Linked DNA regions of Homo sapiens. The protein of the gene in region 2 interacts with the protein of the main gene of each other region in a pairwise test. Each region holds a gene or a part of one and is shown on either strand. Other genes may lie near its edges.

Region 1 (7,956 bases), on a different chromosome or scaffold from region 2:
AAGCCGGCCGTGTGCTCGCTGCTGCCCAAGGAGGCCAACTGCGAGGGCTTCATCGAGGAGGCCGTGCGCTACCACAACAACCTGGCGGCCCAGCCCGTCATGCAGACCAAGCGCACGGCGCTGCGCACCAACCAGGAGCGCCTGCTGTTTGTGGGCGGCGAGGTCTCCGAGCGGTGTCTGGAGCTCAGTGACGACACCTGCTACCTGGACGCCAAGAGCGAGCAGTGGGTCAAAGAGACGCCGCTGCCCGCCCGGCGGAGCCACCACTGTGTCGCGGTGCTGGGGGGCTTCATCTTCATCGCCGGCGGCAGCTTCTCACGGGACAACGGAGGGGATGCGGCCTCCAATCTTCTTTATAGGTATGACCCCCGCTGTAAACAGTGGATCAAGGTGAGATTAAAGCCAGATTATTTCTTTTCTCTTGAGGACTCTCTCGGTTTCCTTAACCTAGCCTTGACTTTCCTTACCTCTCTGGGGCCTTGACAACTATCCTGCTTCTGAATGAGGTGTGATGATAAAGTGACGAGCAGAATACCCCGGGGCCTACATCCTGGACAGGGAGAGGGAGAGCCGACCCACCCCTTCGAGGGGTCCGTCATCGTTCAGAGCAGCACTGCCTGGCGGGGCTTTCTGTGCAGATGGAAGGGTCTGTCTGTACTTCCCGATACGGTAGCCACAGCCGCATGTGGCGACTGAGCACTTGAAATGTGGCCAGTGCGACTGAAGAAGTCAATTTTCAATTTTATTTCACTTTAACCGATTGACGTGTAAGTGTATGTGGCCGCACGAGGCGTGGCTACCCTATTGGACAGTAGCATGGGTCTAGATGTTTGATCCATGGTTCAACATCCCCAGGTCCTGGAGTCTCTGTGGGGCTCCTCTGGAAGCATTTTGGGAGATAGTTTAAGGAGACCACTAGTGCTCACGCCTGGCCCTTGGGCATGTATTGTGTCCTGATTCTGGGAAGAGCGTGGGCCTTGATGTCAGACCTGAGGTCTCATCCCAGCCTGGCTAAGTCATAGCTAGGAAATTTCAGATTCTTGTCCTCTCCACATTTTGGATTCCCCTTCTGGGAATACGTGGGGGACAGGGAGTGCAGTAGCTCATGTTGACTGGCAAGCCCCTGGCGTAGGGAAGGTGTCTCCTTTCTGCTGGGAGCGCTCTCCAGCCACTCGGTCCCCGGGACAGTCCATCTCAGCCTCTATACTCACACCTCAGCGTCGCGCCCAGCTCAGTGCTGTTCTCAGCTCAAAACCCAGTCAGAATGGACTCCAGCTGACCTTTTGATTTTACTCTCAGAAATCTGAGACTGCCCTCCAAGGTCGAAGTGTCACCACTGGAAAGGGTCCCTGGCTTTGGAGCCTCCTCCCGAAGCCTGGCAGCAGTGGCAGCAGTGTGTTTGCCTTGGATTCGTTTAAAAAAAGAAAAAAAAAAGTTGGCTCTTCTACTTTTTGTGTGTGTGTGTGTGAGACAGAGTTGTTCTGTCACCCAAGCTGGAGTGCAGTGGCACGATCTCGGCTAATTGCAACCTCTGCCTCCCAGGTTCAAACAATTCTGGCGCCTCAACCTACTGAGTAGCTGGAATTACAGGCGCCTGCCACCACGCCCGGCTAATTTTTGTATTTTCAGTAGAGACGGGGTTTCACCATGTTGGCCAGGCTGGTCTCGAACTCCGTGACCTCAGGTAATCCACCCACCTTGGCTTCCCAAAGTGCCAGGATTACAGGCGTGAGCCACCGCGCCCAGCCTCTTCTGTTTAATTTCCTGTCGAATGCCACGTCCTGCTCTGTTAACACGGAGTGGCAGAGCAGCACTAACTTTACAAATCTGATGTGGGGAGAGGAAAGATGAATTTTTATTTCATAAAGCCACTAGATCAGCAATTCTGACCCCTGTGACCACAGAGTTCCCATCCACGCGGCTAACGACATGACCAGAGAAGTTCGGGGGTTCAGAGCATCTCCATCCCCCTTTTGGGGACTCAGAGCGTCTCCATCCCACTTTTGGGGATTCAGAGCATCTTGGTGAAACCTCGGGGGCTCAGAGCTCCCACCTGAAGAAGCCCTCTTTATTCAGGTGCAGTTCCCTTTCCCAAACATTCTCCGGGGTTGTGCATTCCGCAGACACATTTGGGAACCGCAGCGCCAGATGTTGATGCTGTCCCGGGTTCGGGGAAGGGAAGGTACAGGTATCTCAACTCCACAGGTGGCCTCCATGAACCAGCGCCGTGTGGATTTCTACCTTGCCTCCATCGAAGACATGCTGGTGGCCATCGGCGGCCGGAATGAGAACGGAGCGCTCTCTTCAGTAGAGACGTACAGTCCCAAGACTGACTCCTGGTCCTATGTGGCCGGCTTGCCAAGGTGATCTGGGGCTTGGTGGAAGGTTCTCCAAATGGGATGTTTTTAAGGGACATAGTTCAGTCCACGTGCCTCACTTTCTGGGCATGTTGGCCTCCAATTCCAGGAATGAAATCTTCCGGCTTGTCAGGAAGAGTGGGTACACCATGAGGGGCGGAGGGCGTGACGGTGCACAGTCCGGGCTCCGGTTTCAGACTTAGGGCAAGGGTCAGCTCTGCCGCCATGACGGACATCCCTCCATGGCTGAGTGTGTGCAGTTGCTGAGCTTCAGAGGGTGAGGCCTGACCTGAGGATCTCCCTGAGCTTGGGCAGGAGGAGTTCAAAGAGATGGGGGTATATGTGCTAGATCTAAGCCTCAGGCATGGGTCTTCACCCCGCTCGGCCTTTAGTTCCTCATCTGTAGAGGTAGACGATAATGATACCCACCCCACAGCACTGTTGTGCAGAGCAGATGCAGTGCTGCTTGTGAAACCTGCATCCACATGCAGGGAGTGCCCCAGGGTGGCCGCCTCACCCTCCTCAGTCTCCCCTGCGTTCCGATGTGCATGTATCGAGCATTTATTATCTCCATGGGATTAGCAGAAGGTGCACACCATTTTTTCCACCAGTTCCCTGTTGCCGCACCCAGCAGTGCACTTTCTGAACCAGTCTTTGCTGTGGAATACATCCAGGTGTCCGTAAGAGTTAGAAGTGTGTGGGGTAAGCGCTCGTATTTTTGTTTTTCTGAGAGAGAGTCTCTCTCTGTCACCCAGGCTGGAGTGCAGTGGCGCGATCTCGGCTCACTGCAATCTCTGCCTCCTGAACTCAAGCAGTTCTCCTGCCTCAGCCTTCTGAGTAGCTGGGACTGCAGGCGCCTGCCACCACACCCAGCTAAGTTTTGTATTTTTGGTAGAGACAGGATTTCATCATGTTAGCCAGGCTGGTCTTGAACTCCTAGCCTCAAGAGATCCACCCACCTCACCCTCACAAAGTGCTGGGATTACAGGCATGAGCCACTGCACCTGGCCATATTGATCCTTTCTTATTCACTAAAGGCCCTGGTTTACATCAGGGTTCCCACTTCCTGGCACAGTTGTGTGGGTTTTGAGGAACACAAAGCAACATGAATCCACCATTACAGCATCACGCAGAATCATTTCACTGCCCTAAAGCCCACTGTGTGCGTGCTGTCCATCCCTCCCTCCCCTCTCCCCACAGTCCTGGCAGCCACTGATTTTGCTGTCTCTATGGTTTTAGGCAAAACTTTTCCCGAGTGCCAGCACAGTTAGAATTGGACTGTATGTCGTATTTCCTCTTTGATGTGTGATTCATCGGGTGCATGTGTGCCTGCTAGCTCATTGTTCTAGTCGTTTCCAGCCATTGTGAAAAGGGTGATGGTCCTGTGATTATTCCCATTTCCCAGATGGGGCAAGGGAGACTCAGAGAGAGTGAAGCTGGGTTCTGGCCCAGGCGGCCTGACTGCAAAGCTGTCCACTTCCCCGCCCTGCCCTGCCATTTCTTTGCTAATGACGGCTACTGTCTATAGAGTGTTCATGGGGTGCCCACTCCCTATATTCTTAAATCCTCATGGCCCTCTAAGACGGCAGGCTGTTCCCCGGCTCGGAGGGGGTAAGCCTGGCACAGCCCTGAGCTCTCCCTCTGTCTCTGCCCGTCGACCCTGCAGGTTCACGTACGGCCACGCGGGCACCATCTACAAAGACTTCGTGTACATCTCGGGGGGCCACGACTACCAAATTGGCCCCTACCGCAAGAACCTGCTATGCTACGACCACCGGACAGACGTGTGGGAGGAGCGGCGGCCCATGACCACGGCGCGCGGCTGGCACAGCATGTGCAGCCTGGGTGACAGCATCTACTCCATCGGGGGCAGCGATGACAACATCGAGTCCATGGAGCGCTTCGACGTGCTGGGCGTGGAGGCCTACAGCCCGCAGTGCAACCAGTGGACCCGCGTGGCGCCGCTGCTGCACGCCAACAGCGAGTCGGGCGTGGCAGTGTGGGAGGGCCGCATCTACATCCTGGGCGGCTACAGCTGGGAGAACACTGCCTTCTCCAAGACCGTGCAGGTGTACGACCGCGAGGCCGACAAGTGGAGCAGGGGCGTCGACCTGCCCAAGGCCATCGCTGGCGGGTCCGCCTGTGTCTGCGCCCTGGAGCCACGGCCAGAGGACAAGAAGAAGAAAGGCAAAGGCAAGAGGCACCAGGACCGGGGCCAGTGACCCTAGCTGCGCCTCTTGGGACCATCCTCACCGTCACCTCCCAGGGCTCTGTAGACCAGCAGCAACTTCTTAGTATTCCGGAAACATTATGTACAACTTAGCAGCTTTTTTTACTTTTATGATTCTTGGTATTTCTATGATATCACAGTAACCAATTAAATACTATCTGTAACTTTACATATCTTGCTTGAATAACTAACCCTGGGCCCAGGCAGTGAGCAACCCCTTGTATCTTCACAGGTCTTTGCCCCGTGTTATGATTCCTCATGGGTCCTTGCTGACTGTCCCCCTGAGAGTAGCTGGCACGTGGGTAACACAGAAATTTCTGTAGTGAAGCTTGGGCCTCAAAGGGTTCTCTTAGGCCACCTAGTCCAAGCCTCCCCAAACCTGGCTGAACTTTTAAGAATACAGATGCGTGAGCCCCGCTCAGAATTATGGAATCCAAAACCACCAGGAACGGGGAGGAGGTGGTGCCCAGAAGCTGTATTTTAACTAGTTCTTGGAATTCTGGGTATTAGTCACATCTGGGAATCACTGGCAAGGTCCAGTGTGTTTGTTTTATAAATGAGTGCACAGAGACCACCCATGAGGGTGAGTGAGTGAGTGACCAGGGGCCACGCAGCTCGCTAGACTGTCAGATGAGACATGATGACTTCCCGCTGGGGAGCTGTTCTCCGTATCAGGTGAACGCTGTTTCTGAATAATTCCGTCTTTCCTCATTGGAAACCTTCTTGAATTCTAAAACGTTACAGGTAACCAAAAACGAAAAAAGGTATGAAGCTCTTTATACATATTTTTTTGTAATTTGTGCATTTTTTTCCTTTTTTTTTTTTCTGAACCCACTGTCTTTTATATTACTGATGTACTGAGCTCCCAAATCTGTTTATTTCTCAGGAAAGAAAAAGTGAGTGCTATGGAATTTGCCATCGTTCTCTGTGACTCTATCTTGAGGCGCTGTTGAAAGTTCCTGCACAGAGGAGCACATGTGGATCCCTGAGAAGGCAGTGGAGGGCTCCCTAACTCCCACGCCAGGTCCTGCCCCAGTTTTCTGCTTCTAAGTAGTTTCGTGCTGCTGGGCAAATTCTCGAACAAGTCCGTGTGTTCCCTCATCCACCCCGCTTAGCCACAGGATTAGATGGAATACCCTCCAGGCTCCTCCCGGGTGATAGGGCCATTCAGCCTCTGAGCTGTTCGTACCCGGATGGCATCCCCTTCAGGATGTGGAGCTGGCCTGCACTGACTCCTGCAAACAGTTCCTAAAGCAGGTGTCAGGGTCGCTTGCCCTTTAAGAGGGCTCTTAGCTGCCCGAGTGGATGAGAAACGTGCAGAACTATGGGAGGATAGGAGTGTGATGGGTTTTAAGCATGAGCCAAGGAAGGCATGAATGAGCTGTACCTCACCCAGCATCCGATGGCAGAGATCAGTAAACTTCAAGATGTGCTTCATCTTCAATCCTAGTCTAACACCAGTCTTCCTGCAGACAGTTCCGAGAGCAGGTCTCGATGTCACTTGCCCTTTAAGAGGGCTCTCAGCTGCTCGAGTGGATGAGGATCAATGTGTTAAGATTGATATTAGACTAGGAAAAAAATCTTAGTTAACTTTAATTTCCATTTCTTCTGCTTCTTTGCTGCCCCTCCTTTCCCTTCCCTTCAGGGTTTACTGTGGTTCTCACTGGTCTGTTTATGTAGCCATCCAGAAGAGATGAGAGCATTTTGGGGACTGAAAGCTTCAATAGCCAACTTACTGCCCTCTGTGGTTAGTGAGGAGGGCAGTCTGCATGTTCAGCTAGCTAGTTATTTGCATGTGAAGTCCCTGGAGGCTTACAAACTGTTGAGAGGTTCTGCGAGGCATACAAACAAACAGACCAAAAGGCTGGAAACTCTGCTTGGAGCTCTGCAGCATTCCGGTGTATGAAAGGTTCCGAGAAGTCTCAACCCAGCATTTCCAAACTTCTTTGAGCCTAAAAGTCGTTTGTCTCATACCTAGTCCCAGACCCCCACAAAACATGTTTTGCAGAACTTCTGCCAACTTTGGGATAGCTTACCCCCTTCCTATTCGGGAAAGGTTTTATTGCTTGTAGACCCCTCAGAAGGCAGGGTAGGGTGTACGTGGGCTGTTCTCCCCATCTCAGCCTGGGTCATGAACAAACGGGCAGTTGTTTGGCCTGAATCTCGGGGCAAGTTGGGGAGAGCACATAGAAAGACTCTGTGAGTGATTTGGGGAGTGGGATAGCTTTGACCTTGGAGAGAGGAGAGCCATTGGTTTTCAGCCTAAGCCAGCTCTTTTATGTTTTGCTTCTGGGACTTGTCCCTGGAAATGTGTGAGCTTCTGGCCTCTATTCTGATTTTCTTGTGCCTCATGAGTTACATACGACGTCCTGCGCTTCATATTTTGTGGTGTCTCTCCTGATACTATGAAGGTGGTTTGTAATTGACATGGCTTTGACCCTAATATTACTAAGGTTGGGACCACCCTTTTAAAGGGAGGATAAACAAGTTTCATCTTGTGGGTCAACTTCTAATATTTGATGGTGGCTACACTGTGACAAGAAAGGTTTTTGAGCTTGTTGGGGTCAGTGGATGGGCACAAGGGCACCCAGTGGTGGTGCCCGGGCCAGGTTTTTGTTACTTGTCTTTTTAAGTTGAAAATTCACCCTACTGTGCATGAAAATGGAACTGAAAATGGAAGAGACCATGCCTGGGCAACATGGCAAAACCCCATCTCTACAAAAAAATTACAAAAGATTAGCCAGGGATGGTGGGGCATGCAGTAGTCCCAGCTGCTTAGGAGGCTGAGGTGGGAGAATCACCTGAGCCTGGGAGGTTGAGGCTGCAGTGAGCTATGACCACACCACTGCACTCTAACCTGGGTGACGGAGTGAGACCCTGTCTCAAAAGAATAAAATGTTTTTTAACTCAGATGGGCAGAGTTTGGGCTGTGCTTATGCAGTGGCCATTTGAACCGCACAGTCACGAATGTGGGGTTTTAAACTAGAGTGATGAAGGCACAGGTGCTTGCAGGCTGCCATTTTGAGAGGGAAACAGCCACACATGTCATCATGTTAAACTTTCAGTGTTTCAAGCTATTCTGCTTGAATTTTGAAGACACCTGGATCTTTTTTTTTTTTTAACATTTCAAAATAAGCATGGCAGGCTTCTATTGAGGTTTGGACTTCTCTCATTTCTAAAGAATTAGAGTTGTAACTTCATATTAGTTGTAAGTTTGGGGTTTGGTCCTCACCCAAGTTGGAAAGCTGTTTGCTTAAGACATAGATGTATTATAATAATAGAAGGGAGGGAGTAGAAAGCTGATGAACCCTTGTTACTTATAGCAAACTTCCTGCTGTTTTAAATGCACAGAGATTATTTTATCAACTG
Region 2 (9,269 bases):
CCCCGACAAGCACCGCCCCCTGCTCTACGGCGCCCAGTCCCATCGACGACCCAAGGGCTGAGGAGTGCGGGTGCACGGCATGGGAGTGGCAGGCAGCTCCACCTGCAGCCCAGGTGCGGGATCCACTGGGTGACGCCAGCTGGGCTCCTGAGTTTAGTGGGGACCTGCAGAACCTTTATGTCTAGCTAAGGGATTGTAAATGCACCAATCGGCACCCTGTGTCTAGCTCAGGGTTTGTGAATGCACGAATCGACACTCTGTATCTAGCTACTCTGGTGGGGAGGTGGAGAACCTTTGTGTCTAGCTCAGGGATTGTAAACACACCAATCAGCGCCCTGTCAAAACAGACCACTCGGCTCTACCAATCAGCAGGATGTGGGTGGGGCCAGATAAAAGAATAAAAGCAGGCTGCCTGAGCCAGCAGTGGCAAGCTGCTTGGGTCCCCTTCCATACTGTGGAAGCTTTGTCTTTCTTTGCAATAAATCTTGCTGCTGCTCACTCTTTGGGTCCACACTGCCTTTATGAGCTGTAACACTCACCACGAAGGTCTGCAGCTTCACTGCTGAAGCCAATGAGACCACGAACCCCCCGGGAGGAATGAACAACTTGAGACGCGCTGCCTTAAGAGCTGTAACACTCACCGCGAAGGTCTGCAGCTTCACTCCTGAGCCAGCGAGACCACAAACCCACCAGAAGGAAGAAACTCCGAACACATCTGAACATCAGAAGGAACAAACTCCGGACACGCCACCTTTAAGAACTGTAACACTCACCGCGAGGGTCCACGGCTTCATTCTTGAAGTCAGTGAGACCAAGAACCCACCAATTCCGGACACACCAGCTACTAGGGAGGCTGAGGTGAGGGGATCACCTGAATCCAGGAAGTCGAGGGTGCAGTGAGCCGAGATCATGCCGTTACACTCCAGCCTGAGTGACAGAGTGAGATCTTGTGTCAAAAAAACAGAACAAAATAAAACAAGAACGTTGAATAGGCTGTGTGTTAATTCTGAGATGGAGTCCAGACTTAAGAATGATCCTGAGGCTTAGACCCATATCCAAGAGGATGATTCCAGCCTGGCACTTATAGGTTCTTCAGGCACTTCAGATGCACCCTGTCCTGAATTAAGCCCTTTGTCCTTGAACCTGCTTTCCTTGGTAAACAGCACCAAGGGGGCTAGAAACCTGGGGGCTGCCCTTACCTTCCCTCTCTCACCATGCACCTCTAATGGGTGGCTGGACTTGTGGTTGCATTTCCGTGATCTCCCAGCTTTCTTCCAGTGATGGCCTTAGGTGGGCTCTTATCCTGTCTCCCAAATGGCCTCTCTGCCTTGAGTCTCACCCCATCTGCTCTCAGTCCACCCACTGAGCTATTCCAGAGACCATTCTGACTCCCTGTGGACACCCCTCTGGTGGCTTCTCCTCTCTGTCAGTTAGAAATTGCTTTTGACTGCATGTAACAAATGTGGTTACGCTATTTAACCAAATAAAGGTTTATTTTTCTCGTGATGAAAAGTACACAGATAAGCAGCCTACTTCCATCGATAACCATTGAGGGTTTCTTATGACTCTTACAGCAATGAAATGTGTATTTACAGTATAAAGATATACAATTTTAAGGTTTTAATATAATTGGGCCTAAGCACAGTATTTTTTGTTTTAGTTTTCAACTGCCCAGGTGATTCTATTGTGCAGCCAGGGTTGATAAACACTGCATCTAGGCCCAGTGCCTTTGATTTGCAGCTGAGGTCTAGAGAGAATTATTGAAACTGCAGTCCCAGCTACTTGGGAGGCTGAGGTTGGAGAATTGCCTAAGCCCAGCGGGGTGAGGCTGTAGTGAGTCAAGACTGCACCACCGCACTCCAGCCCGGGCGACAGAGCAACACTCCATCTAAAAAAAAAAAAATTTCTGGTCTACCTTTTTGCCCACCTTTTAACCACAGAGGTCCCCAAACATGAATTTTCACTCTCAGGAAGGCTGAAATGACACATTACAAGCGGTTTAGTCATCTGCACGTGCCGCCATCTGATTTAAGGCATCTATTCCTCCTCACCATTCCTGACAAAGTTGAACTGTCTACATGTGCCACATTCTCCTCTTTCTCTAATTCCTTCCCTCCTTCCCTCCTCCCTTTCTTCCCTCCCTCCCTCCTTCCTTCTTCTTTCTCTTTCTTTTTCTTTCTCTCTTTCTCTTTCTTTCTCTTTCTCTCTCACTCTCTTTTCTTCTTTCTGACAGGGTTTGCCTGTTCTGCTTCTTTAAACCCTGGGGTTCAAGTGCAAAGGTCCCTCTCATCTGATTTCCCTATTTTATTTTATTTAAGTTAGATACTCCACGATGATGATGATGATTATTGTTGAGACAGGATTTCATTCTGTTGCCCAGGCTGGAGTGCAATGGTGCGATCACAACTCACTGCAGCCTCAACCTCCTGGGCCCACGCGATCCTCCTACCTCAGCCTCCCAAGTAGCTTGGACTACAGGGGTGTACCACCATGCCCGGCTAATTACATGTGCCAGATTCAACCCACGTTCCAGGGTTCCAAACAACCAAGGCTCTATCATCCTGTCTTAACAAATATACCTTCATAAAGACCTGGAAGGCAGGTTGAAATGTGGAATTCTTGGACTTCTTTCAGTTCTACGTAGAAGGGTAGCAGTGGAGAGCTGGCTGCCTGCCCGCCCCTGGCCTTTCCTCCTTTCCCCACCCCTGCTCCTTGTGGCACTGGGCAGGGCCTACGTTCAAGGCTAGCAGTGTACTCAACAAGGGACAGTCCCTGTGTGGCCTGTTCAGGATCCTATACACAGGCTCAGGGCTCTTTGGGCAGGAAATTCCAGGATCCGGGTACTCAAGTGGTGTTCTAAACAGTGGTTCTTGGCCGGGTGTGGTGGCTCACACCTGTAATCCCAGCACTTTGGGAGGCCGAGGCTGGCAGATCACTTGAGGTCAGGAGTTCGAGACCAGCCTGGCCAACATGGTGAAACCCCATCTCTACTAAAAATACAAAAACTTAGCCAGGCATGGTGTGCACGCCTGTAGTCCCAGCTACTCGGGAGGCTGAGGCAGGAGAATCACTTGAACCCAGCAGGCGGAGGTTGCAGTGAGCTGAGATTGCACCACTGCACTCCAGCCTGGTGACAGAGTGAGACTCCATATCAAAATAAATACATAAATAAATAAAAACAGTGATTCTTAACTGGGAGTGATTTGGCAACGTCTGGAATTATTTTTGGTTATCCCAGCCTGGCAGGGAGGGACAGGGTATTACTGGCATCTAGTGAGTAGGGGCTAGGGATTCTACTGAACATCCTACAGTGTACAGGACAGCCTCCACAGCAAAGAACTGTCTGGCCCAAAATGTCCATAGTGCCCACATTCGATGCCCTGCATTAGGAAGATATAAATACTCTTAAATATCACAGAGTTAAATTCCTTACCCCTGTTCTAGCAGAGATGATATTCTTGCGGGGGGAGCATCTTCTTGGCTTCAACACATTCTTTTCTCCATGGGAGATGATGCCAGAAGAGGGACAGAACAGGGCCCAGTAAAGCATGGGGCCTGGGGCCAGGGACCCCCTTGTTCAGGTGTGACGACCATCCTACGAAGGCACCACCCAGGCATCATTAGACCGTCTCAAAAGAAGAGTAATTCACTGTCCCAAAGCAGCTCTCTCGTGTCTGTGGGCGGATCCCTTGGCAAGTTTACAATGAACTGAAATCTGCCGAACTTCCTGGAACCCAAAGAAACTTTAGCCTTGGGCAAAGGCCCTTTGGCCAGCATTTGCACTGTTTATGCAACCGTTTAGAATATACGAATTATCTGGAGACTACTACCAAATACAACAGGCAAAACTGCAAATATGTATACTTCCTAGAGGATGATAAAAAAATGTGAATTGTATTTCTCTGATAGAGGATGCATTAGAGTCTGAGGGTCTAAATAGCGTAAATAATAAATAAGTAAATAAATCGATAGTAGTGTACTCCAAACGAGGCTGGAATAGCTTCTATTGTTGTTTCACACTGGACTTCAATTAAGTCTCAGTATTTTGCCATACTCAATATTAAGTACTAGGCTGGACGTGGTGGCTCATGTCTGTAATCCCAGCACTTTGGGAGGCCGAGGTGGGTAGATGGCTGGCTTGAGCTCAGGAGTTTGAAACCAGCCTGGGCAACATGGTAAAACCCCATCTGTACCCAAAATACAAAAATCAGCCAGGTGTGGTGGCACATGCCTGTGGTCCCAGGTACTTGGGAGGCTGAGGCAGGAGGATGGCTTGAACCCAGGAGGTGGAGGCTGCAGTGAGCTATGATGGCGCCACTGCACTCCAGCCTGGGTGACAGAGCGAGACCCTGTCTCAAAAATCAAACAAACAACCCCCTCGCCCCGGACAAAAGTAGTTTGCACTATTTTCTCATTTCACAATATGTTTTTGAAATATTTCCCTTGAAAGGTAAGTCATATTTATCATTCCTGTTGTATGGAGGCATCATAAATTATTTCACCATTCTACCCTCCTTGAGTGTTGTGGCCTTTAGGCCAGACAAAAACGCAGGTGATGCCTAGAAGCCAACTAGTTGCCGTTTGGTTATCTGTAGGGTTGTGGCCTTGCCAAACAGGAAAAATATAAAAAGAATACCGAATTCTGCCAACCAAATAAGAAACTCTATACTAAGGACTAAGAAAATTGCAGGGGAAGAAAAGGTAAGTCCCGGGATTGAGGTGTAGCGACTTTCTATACCCTCAGAAAACTAAAAAACAAGACAAAAAAATGAAAACTACAAAAGCATCCATCTTGGGGCGTCCCAATTGCTGAGTAACAAATGAGACGCTGTGGCCAAACTCAGTCATAACTAATGACATTTCTAGACAAAGTGACTTCAGATTTTCAAAGCGTACCCTGTTTACATCATTTTGCCAATTTCGCGTACTGCAACCGGCGGGCCACGCCCCCGTGAAAAGAAGGTTGTTTTCTCCACATTTCGGGGTTCTGGACGTTTCCCGGCTGCGGGGCGGGGGGAGTCTCCGGCGCACGCGGCCCCTTGGCCCCGCCCCCAGTCATTCCCGGCCACTCGCGACCCGAGGCTGCCGCAGGGGGCGGGCTGAGCGCGTGCGAGGCGATTGGTTTGGGGCCAGAGTGGGCGAGGCGCGGAGGTCTGGCCTATAAAGTAGTCGCGGAGACGGGGTGCTGGTTTGCGTCGTAGTCTCCTGCAGCGTCTGGGGTTTCCGTTGCAGTCCTCGGAACCAGGACCTCGGCGTGGCCTAGCGAGTTATGGCGACGAAGGCCGTGTGCGTGCTGAAGGGCGACGGCCCAGTGCAGGGCATCATCAATTTCGAGCAGAAGGCAAGGGCTGGGACGGAGGCTTGTTTGCGAGGCCGCTCCCACCCGCTCGTCCCCCCGCGCACCTTTGCTAGGAGCGGGTCGCCCGCCAGGCCTCGGGGCCGCCCTGGTCCAGCGCCCGGTCCCGGCCCGTGCCGCCCGGTCGGTGCCTTCGCCCCCAGCGGTGCGGTGCCCAAGTGCTGAGTCACCGGGCGGGCCCGGGCGCGGGGCGTGGGACCGAGGCCGCCGCGGGGCTGGGCCTGCGCGTGGCGGGAGCGCGGGGAGGGATTGCCGCGGGCCGGGGAGGGGCGGGGGCGGGCGTGCTGCCCTCTGTGGTCCTTGGGCCGCCGCCGCGGGTCTGTCGTGGTGCCTGGAGCGGCTGTGCTCGTCCCTTGCTTGGCCGTGTTCTCGTTCCTGAGGGTCCCGCGGACACCGAGTGGCGCAGTGCCAGGCCCAGCCCGGGGATGGCGACTGCGCCTGGGCCCGCCTGGTGTCTTCGCATCCCTCTCCGCTTTCCGGCTTCAGCGCTCTAGGTCAGGGAGTCTTCGCTTTTGTACAGCTCTAAGGCTAGGAATGGTTTTTATATTTTTAAAAGGCTTTGGAAAACAAAAATACGCAACAGAGACCGTTTGTGTGACACTTTGCAGGGAAGTTTGCTGGCCTCTGTTCTAGGTCATGATTGGGCTGCAAGGGCAGAGAAGGTAGCCTTGAACAGAGGTCCTTTTCCTCCTCCTAAGCTCCGGGAGCCAGAGGTTTAACTGACCCTTTTGGGGATTTTTGAGGGCAGTGATCTTAACTTTGGGTGCACAGTTAGCTTATTTGAAGATCTTACTAAAAATACACCAGAGCCCAACCTCCGACCAATTACATCAAAACCTGTCCTAGTGCAGGGTGAGTATTGCTGTTTTTTGAAAGTTTCCAAAAGTGATTTTGATGTGCACCTACGATTGAGAACTGTCGTTTGAGGACAGTGGGTGGAGTTTCGTATTTGGAAATTAGAAGACCTGGAGTTTCCATTACACCGAATTGGCACTTAATAACTGTTGTCGGAGCATTTCTTAAGCCACATTTTCGTAAAGTGGCTTTAAAATTGCTCTGCCAGTAGGCAGGTTGCTAAGATGGTCAGAGACAAACTTCTGAACGACTCTTGTAAAATATACAGAAATATTTTCAGAACTTTTATCAGTAAAATTACAAAACGTGTTGCAAGGAAGGTGCTTGTGATAACACTGTCCCCAGAACCTTAGTGAAGTTACCAACTGGTGGAAAATTTTCTCTTGCACTCGGCTTAAAAATCATGAGGGAATATTTACTATACGAATGAGATTCAGTCTTTAAAGGGGTTTACAGAAACGTGAGAGGACAGGAACAGTTAGTCTGTGTAAATGTCTGAAATATATGTGAGGGAGATAATGAGTTTAGCCTTTTTCTTTAATAGGTCTCCAGATTTTCTGGAAAAGGTTCTTTGGCATTTGACTCCATTTTGCTGTTTCATTTGTCAGACTTCTTTTTGTCCCTCTTTACTTCTCCCCACATAATTCACCAGTACTAGTGTTTTGTTTTTCAGACCAAGTCTCGCTCTGTCGCCCAGGCTGGAGTGCAGTGGCGCGATCTCAGCTCACTGCAACCTCCGCCTCCCAGGTTCAAGCAATTCTCCTGCCTCAGCCTCCCGGGTAGCTGGGACTACAGGCGCGCGCCGCCACGCCTGGCTAATTTTTTATATTTTAGTAGAGACGGCGTTTCACCATGTTGGCCAGGATGGTCTCGATCTGTTGACGTCGTGATCCACCCGCCTCGGCCTCCCAAAGTGCTGGGATTACAGGCGTGAGCCACCCCGCCCGGCCACCAGTGCTATTCTTAAGACGCCTCTGAGGAATCCCTTCTCCCTGGCCATTGAGAATCCATGCATGAACCCAGGTTTTCCACCTTCCCTGAGCAGCTTGCATAGTTCCTTCTTTTAAGCGCCTGACTTCGTTTTGTTTGGTGCCCGTTGTACCTGAGAATGAGCCTTGGATAGTGGAGCATTCCAGCTTTCCAGATATGCAGAGATAATACATTGGCTATCAGCTACTTGGCTTGGCCTATTCCGTGTTTAAAATCTTGGACTCTTTGCTAGTTTTTACAGATCAGAATTTTTCACGTATTAATCCAGTTTTCCTAGCTTCTCTTGAAGAATTTTTGGAGATCTCTTCATACTGAGCCTTCATTAGCCCAGGACAGTACTGCTGTAGCAGTTCATATATTTTTTCGCTTCCCAGGCCTGTGTTATTCACTTAAGTTCATAGCCTGGTCCCTGCAGGGTTGTACCCGAGCACAGCTACTTAGATGTCCTGAATGTATTACCGGTTAAATGGAGGTTTCAAAGAACCTGCTGTTTTTGGCCCTGTGCTCTTGATAACAGAGTGTTTGAGGGACAACTTTCACATTTGAGTTTTTCCAAAATTAAAGGTTGTAGAAGAGTCACAGTATCTATTGTCAAAAAGAAAAGAATTTAAAAAGGCAGCAATTGCCAGGATACTTCATTTGAGCAATGATATTTTCCAGTGGAAAGTCACATCTTAAGGGTTAATGCCCCTTAACTGTTGGCCGTATTTGAAAACAAACCAAGCTAAAAACAAGAGACACTGACATGTTGTATGACGGTGTGGTGTGGATGTTGTGTTTATTTTAGTCCTGAGATCTAGTTGTAACTTCCTTGATTTCTGTATGTAGCCACGGAGCACCATTACCTGTCACCATTACCTGAATGGCTATACTGCTTGCTTTCATTTTGGTAGAGTGGAAAGGTTACCTAGGTTTCAGTGCTTGAAAAGATTTCAGAAAGCAGTAGTACGTCTGGTTAGACTAGAATCAGTCCTCTCCTGGGGGCAGTGGAATATAATATTTTCTGACTGCTAATTAAAAATACCTGTGATAGCCGGGCGTGGTGGCTTACGCCTGTAATCCCAGCACTTTGGGAGGCCGAGACGGGTGGATCACGAGGTCAGCAGATGGAGACCATCCTGGCTAACACGGTGAAACCCCGTCTCTACTAAAAATGCAAAAAAATTAGCCGGGTGTGGTGGTGGGCGCCTGTAGTCCCAGCTACTCAGGAGGCTGAGGCAGGAGAATGGCATGAACCTGGGAGGCGGAGCTTGCAGTGAGCCGAGATCATGTCACTGCACTCCAGCCTGGGCGACAGAGCGAGACTCGTCTCAAAAAAAAAAAGAAAAAAACTTATGATGGACACTTAAAAACACTCACTGAGTGGGGAGTGGAGAGCAGGGGTCCCAGGGTAGCCTGTTGGACATTTCCAGGGCGACTTTTTCTTTTTTTTTTTTTAAAGTCAAGTGAGTATGCCATATGGAAAAGGGTGTGCGTGGAGAAAAAGCAAGGGGCTCCAGAGTGTAGGATGAGACATACACCTTTTGGGTTAAAAAGGCTGAGGCAGGAGAATGGCGTGAACCCGGGAGGCGGAGCTTGCAGTGAGCTGAGATCATGCCACTGCACTCCAGCCTGGGCGACAGAGCGAGACTCTTGTCTCAAAATAAAAAACGTTTACATGTACATGTATATTCAACATGTACAAATATAACCTATTCAAAAGTATTTACTACATAAATAGGTACTTACATTACCTATTTACTGTAATAGTCAAAGCCTATGAAGTATCTAACACTGATGTGTAGGTACTCACTTTGCTTGCCACTCTATTAGGTGCTTTTTATGTTATTTAATCATGAAGCCTGGCCACAGGGTGCTTGTGCATTGAGTGTGGGAACAAGATTACCATCTCCCTTTTGAGGACACAGGCCTAGAGCAGTTAAGCAGCTTGCTGGAGGTTCACTGGCTAGAAAGTGGTCAGCCTGGGATTTGGACACAGATTTTTCCACTCCCAAGTCTGGCTGCTTTTTACTTCACTGTGAGGGGTAAAGGTAAATCAGCTGTTTTCTTTGTTCAGAAACTCTCTCCA
Region 3 (4,712 bases), on a different chromosome or scaffold from region 2:
GGGGGCATGTGAGTCGGTTTAGTGGGCCCGATGTGACCAGGCCAGGCGGGGAGCAGCGTAGACGGTGAAATGCTTTTCATTACTGAACATGCTTTGGGAATGGCATGAGAACTCTTTCAAAGACTCAGGACCCGTTTGAGGCTTTATGAGGGGCAGGTCACCTGAAGCTTTGGGTTTCAGAAATAGACCATCCCCTCTCCCATCTGTATCCTGAGTTAAACTGGGGAAGCTGAGATGTGTCTAGATCCTCCATTTGGGCTGACAGCAGGTCTGCAGGGGGAAAATGCCACTGCCCCTTGTGTTGGCCTGGGCAGCTGGGGTGGGGATGGTTCTAGCACTGTGCTGTAGGTGTATCTGACCTACCATCCTGGGAGTGGCCCAACTCTAGGGATGAGCTGGGTCATACGGCAGGGATCACCCAGAGGAAGGTAGACCTCCATCATCCTCTGTGCTTGGATGAGAACCTCACATCTTGGACCCTTCCTCGCACTCCCGAATTCTCTAAACTCATCTCTAGTCCTCGTTCAGAGGTGCATCCTTCTTTTACACCTGGGGCCAGAGAGGAGGACCTGGGTTAGGAGGGAAAGTGAGCTGGTTATTTCCCTTACTTTTCTGCTTCTTCGCCTCCTTTAGGTCCCGTCTGAGGTGCCCCTGACCGTCCCTGCCCTCACCCCACCCCGGATCCCGGCAATGCTAACCGCTGTCTGCGGCTCTCTGGGCAGCCAGCACACGGAAGCGCCGCACGCCTCCCCGCCGCGCCTCGACCTGCAGCCTCTCCAAACTTACCAGGGCCACACGAGCCCTGAGGCCGGGGACTACCCCTCCCCGCTGCAGCCTGGAGAGCTGCAGAGCCTCCCGCTGGGCCCGGAGGTGGACTTCTCGCAGGGCTATGAGCTGCCAGGGGCCTCCTCGCGGGTAACCTGCGAGGACCTGGAAAGCGACAGTCCCTTGGCCCCGGGCCCCTTTTCCAAGCTCCTGCAGCCGGACATGTCACACCATTATGAATCGTGGTTCAGGCCGACTCACCCAGGCGCGGAGGATGGCTCGTGGTGGGACCTTCATCCGGGCACCAGCTGGATGGACCTCCCCCACACTCAGGGCGCGCTGACCTCACCTGGCCACCCGGGGGCGCTTCAGGCGGGCTTGGGGGGCTACGTCGGAGACCACCAGCTTTGTGCCCCGCCACCCCACCCGCATGCGCACCACCTCCTTCCAGCTGCCGGAGGGCAGCATCTCCTAGGGCCGCCCGACGGGGCTAAGGCCTTGGAAGTAGCCGCCCCGGAGTCTCAAGGGCTGGATTCCAGCCTGGACGGGGCGGCGCGTCCCAAAGGCTCCCGGCGGTCGGTGCCCCGCAGCTCAGGCCAGACCGTCTGTCGCTGCCCCAACTGTCTGGAGGCGGAGCGACTGGGGGCTCCATGTGGGCCCGATGGGGGCAAGAAGAAGCATTTGCACAACTGCCACATCCCGGGCTGCGGGAAAGCCTACGCCAAGACGTCGCACCTGAAGGCGCACCTGCGCTGGCACAGCGGCGACCGTCCCTTCGTGTGCAACTGGCTCTTCTGCGGCAAGCGCTTCACGCGCTCGGACGAGCTGCAGCGCCACCTCCAGACCCACACCGGCACCAAGAAGTTCCCCTGTGCAGTCTGCAGCCGCGTCTTCATGCGCAGCGACCACCTGGCCAAGCACATGAAAACCCACGAGGGCGCCAAGGAGGAGGCGGCTGGGGCGGCCTCGGGAGAGGGCAAGGCCGGCGGCGCAGTGGAGCCCCCCGGGGGCAAAGGCAAACGCGAGGCCGAGGGCAGCGTGGCTCCCTCCAACTGAGCTCCTCAGTGCCGCCTCCCTGCGGGTATCCCGGGGGGCACTGGATGCGAGCCCCCAGGTCTGACGTCCTTGGGGGTGGCTTGAGGAAGAGGGGAAGGTGCGTATTTATTCAGGGAGGAGGAAAAGTGGTGCAGGGACAGGGAGATGGGGCGCTAGGGGTTCTTAGTCTCTGGGGCTACTAGGCAGGATGAATTTGACTGGGTCGGTAGGAGCTGCGCAATGCCCCTCTGTTCTCCCCTGCCTCACAGTTTCCCTCGCCCCTGGGCTGGGGGGTTGGGGTGGGACACCCGTACCGCGGCTGGCTGGCGGGGACAGGCTAGAGGAGACAGCAAGTCCCAGTCCCCGGAGCAGAGAGAAGTGGGGCCGGCCCGGGGCGCTGGTGGTGGCTGTCTGGACACGTCCTTAGCGCCTGGGAACCAGGACATAAAAGCGCCTCCGGAGCCGCCCTGCGGCGGGGTCCCTTTCATCCCACTTAAAGTGCTTCTGCCCCTAGGGTTTCCGGAGGGAGAGCCGAGATGGGATGGGGGAGCCTGGGGGTCCCCCTTGGCAGGGGTGTCTCTTTCTGGTTTGGAGGGTTGTTGCTGTAAAAATAACTCCTTTGATGAGCTTCCTTATTAACCCTTTCAGACCCAGTCTGTTGGAGCCATGAAGGAAGAGGGAAAGAGGGCTGCCATTCCTGACAGCCTCCCAGCCAGGGCTGGCGATAAAGGACCGAGATAGATGGAGGGGGCGAGTAGGGAAGTCCTCTTCTAAAATGAGAGATAGGGATTTGGTGGGGTATGGAAGGAACTAACCCCTTCCCTCTCCACCTCTGATTCAGCCCTTAATTCTTGGTCTATGATAAATAAAGTTCAGTAGTCTCACATTCCCCATCTATTACCCTAGGTGTGTTTTCAAGGCAGCCAGCGGTAGAATCCATGTAGTTCCCACCAGTTGCCTTCCCCTCAGGGATGGAAGGAAGAGGGTTTCTTGGGCTGGTTGAGGGCAGATTGGGGGTGTCTCATCAGAGGGACCTCCACTGGTTCCCACTCAGAGTGGAGGCCTGCAGCCTACCTGACCATCTCTTTAGCTGTCACCAAGAAAATAAACCCCACTGTCTCTCTAGCTTGGCCCTTGTCTTTCCCTTGCCCCTGCCATAGCATGTTCATTAGGGGATTCCTTCCTCCCCCTCATCTCACAGGGGAAGGGAGAGGAAAGAGTTGTTCTCCCACTGGAAGGGGTTCTGCCTTCTGAGGTGACATCCAGGAAGCTGTCCCCATTCCCTTCTCCTTTAGATGCTAGAAACACATTTTGATTCTGATCATGGGGTGGGGGAGAGAGGAAAGGAGGGAGGGGAGAAGCCCAGCAGAAGCTGAGCCAGGCAGAGGGGAAAGAAGCTGATATGAGGAAGGGTCTGACAGGCCACAGCCCTTGCAGCCGGAGGGCTTTCCCACACTCAAGAGAGGGGCCTTACAGTCCCTCTGACACCCCTCCCCCTTCCCCTCGCTCCCTTTCTTCACCCGGAGCCCTCTGCAGAGATTAGCTGTGTATTGATTTTTAAGTTATAAGCAAAGGGTATTTTATTTAATATTAGGTTATGTGTGTGCATGTTGTGTGTACCTGTGTGCATGTATGTGTGTTTCTCTACTGAGCCTGGGGTCTCTAGCCAGGGAGACCCCATCTTATTCACCATGTCCAAGATCCTGGGATCTGGGCCCAGCATCTCTTCCTCCTTTGTAGATGCTGGAGCCCAGCCAAGGTCTGGGAGCTATATGGGAAGTGGGGGCTGGGATCTGGGTGGGAATATGTGTTTGTATACAAAGGGGCCCTCCTTAAAAGGGACAGGATGACCTTCCCGAGGAACTCATTGGCCTGGGGTAGTTTAAGAAGTAATGTTCTTTCTTTCTTTCTCTTTTCCCTACCTCCTGCTAACCCAACCAGAGATCCCCTTCCTTGCTGAGAGGGTTGGGGGCAGGAGGAGATTTGGCAGTGCCTGCAGGTTGCCTGGCCAGGTGGAGAGGGGGAAAGAGGAAGGGCACCGTGGGTGTAAGATGCCTTTCTCCTCCACCCATCGAAACCAGCCACCCCTTCCCTGTGCCACCAAGACAGCCTTTTCCAGTGGCCATCCTAAGGGGAACTCCCAAATGGGTGTTGCTGGTGGACACAGATGCTCCCCCCAATGGAAGCCCCAAGCTCTGAGGTATGCGGGTAGAGGCTTTGGATAGGTTTTCTTCTGCTCCCCTCTTTTATAGATCTAGGCTGCTTGGCTGCCTGTCTTTCTAGGCAGTCCCCCTAGAGGAAAAATGTAGGAATTTATTTTTTCTTTAACTGCTGTGAACTCACTTTGAGGGGGTAGGAGGAGGGAGAAACAGCCTGTGTTTTTTATGCAATAAAGTCATCAACTACATCATGCTTCCTTTGTGTTCCAGCTCTGTTTCCTTTTTGACTCAGTGTCCCTCAGCAGTGAGGACCAGGTCTGGGCCACAGAGTGGGGTGGATGCTTCCCAGTGATCCTGCAGCCCCTTGGAAAGCCTCATGTCTATTGAGTTGGGTTGGAGCTGGGGTCTGATCCTGCCCCAGAGGTGGCTGGTACAGAAGGAGGGAGGTTCTTCCTCTGGGTTGGTACCCGGGCTGTCCCTCCCTGGTCTCATACCTGTGGTTATGAGAAGTTTCTAGATATCTCTTTCCTCTTCCACATACAAGCCCCTTCTTTCCCTTCCCCTGCTAAGAACACTGGTTCCCTCTTTCCCAGGCACTGGCTCCCTCACTCCATCCCCATAGAGGGTGCATGTCAGTCCATCCCCTGCCTGTGACTGAGCTGGGGGTGATTGGCAGTGATTACTTCACCCAGGATGATCCTTATCAGGGACAAGGCGATGAAAGGCAGCCGAGCTATCTGATGGGCTCCTGCC

Evidence for each region. Proteins that work in one complex are often made in the same cells at the same time.
Region 1: the proteins of SOD1 (region 2) and KLHL36 interact in binary tests that used the Homo sapiens proteins (3 or more experiments, as listed by UniProt).
Region 3: the proteins of SOD1 (region 2) and SP6 interact in binary tests that used the Homo sapiens proteins (3 or more experiments, as listed by UniProt).

Annotation. Positions count from the first base shown.
Region 1 is NC_000016.10:84,657,555-84,665,510, forward strand, and holds part of KLHL36 (kelch-like protein 36), read left to right. Parts: coding exon 1-390; intron 391-2,205; coding exon 2,206-2,363; intron 2,364-4,023; coding exon 4,024-4,579; 3' UTR 4,580-7,956.
Region 2 is NC_000021.9:31,654,501-31,663,769, forward strand, and holds the start of SOD1 (superoxide dismutase [Cu-Zn]), read left to right. Parts: upstream 1-5,192; 5' UTR 5,193-5,269; coding exon 5,270-5,341; exon of another isoform or gene 5,342-5,524; intron 5,525-9,269. UniProt on the Homo sapiens protein: Destroys radicals which are normally produced within the cells and which are toxic to biological systems.
Region 3 is NC_000017.11:47,844,408-47,849,119, reverse strand, and holds the end of SP6 (transcription factor Sp6), read left to right. Parts: intron 1-633; 5' UTR 634-690; coding exon 691-1,821; 3' UTR 1,822-4,212; downstream 4,213-4,712. UniProt on the Homo sapiens protein: Promotes cell proliferation. Plays a role in tooth germ growth. Plays a role in the control of enamel mineralization. Binds the AMBN promoter.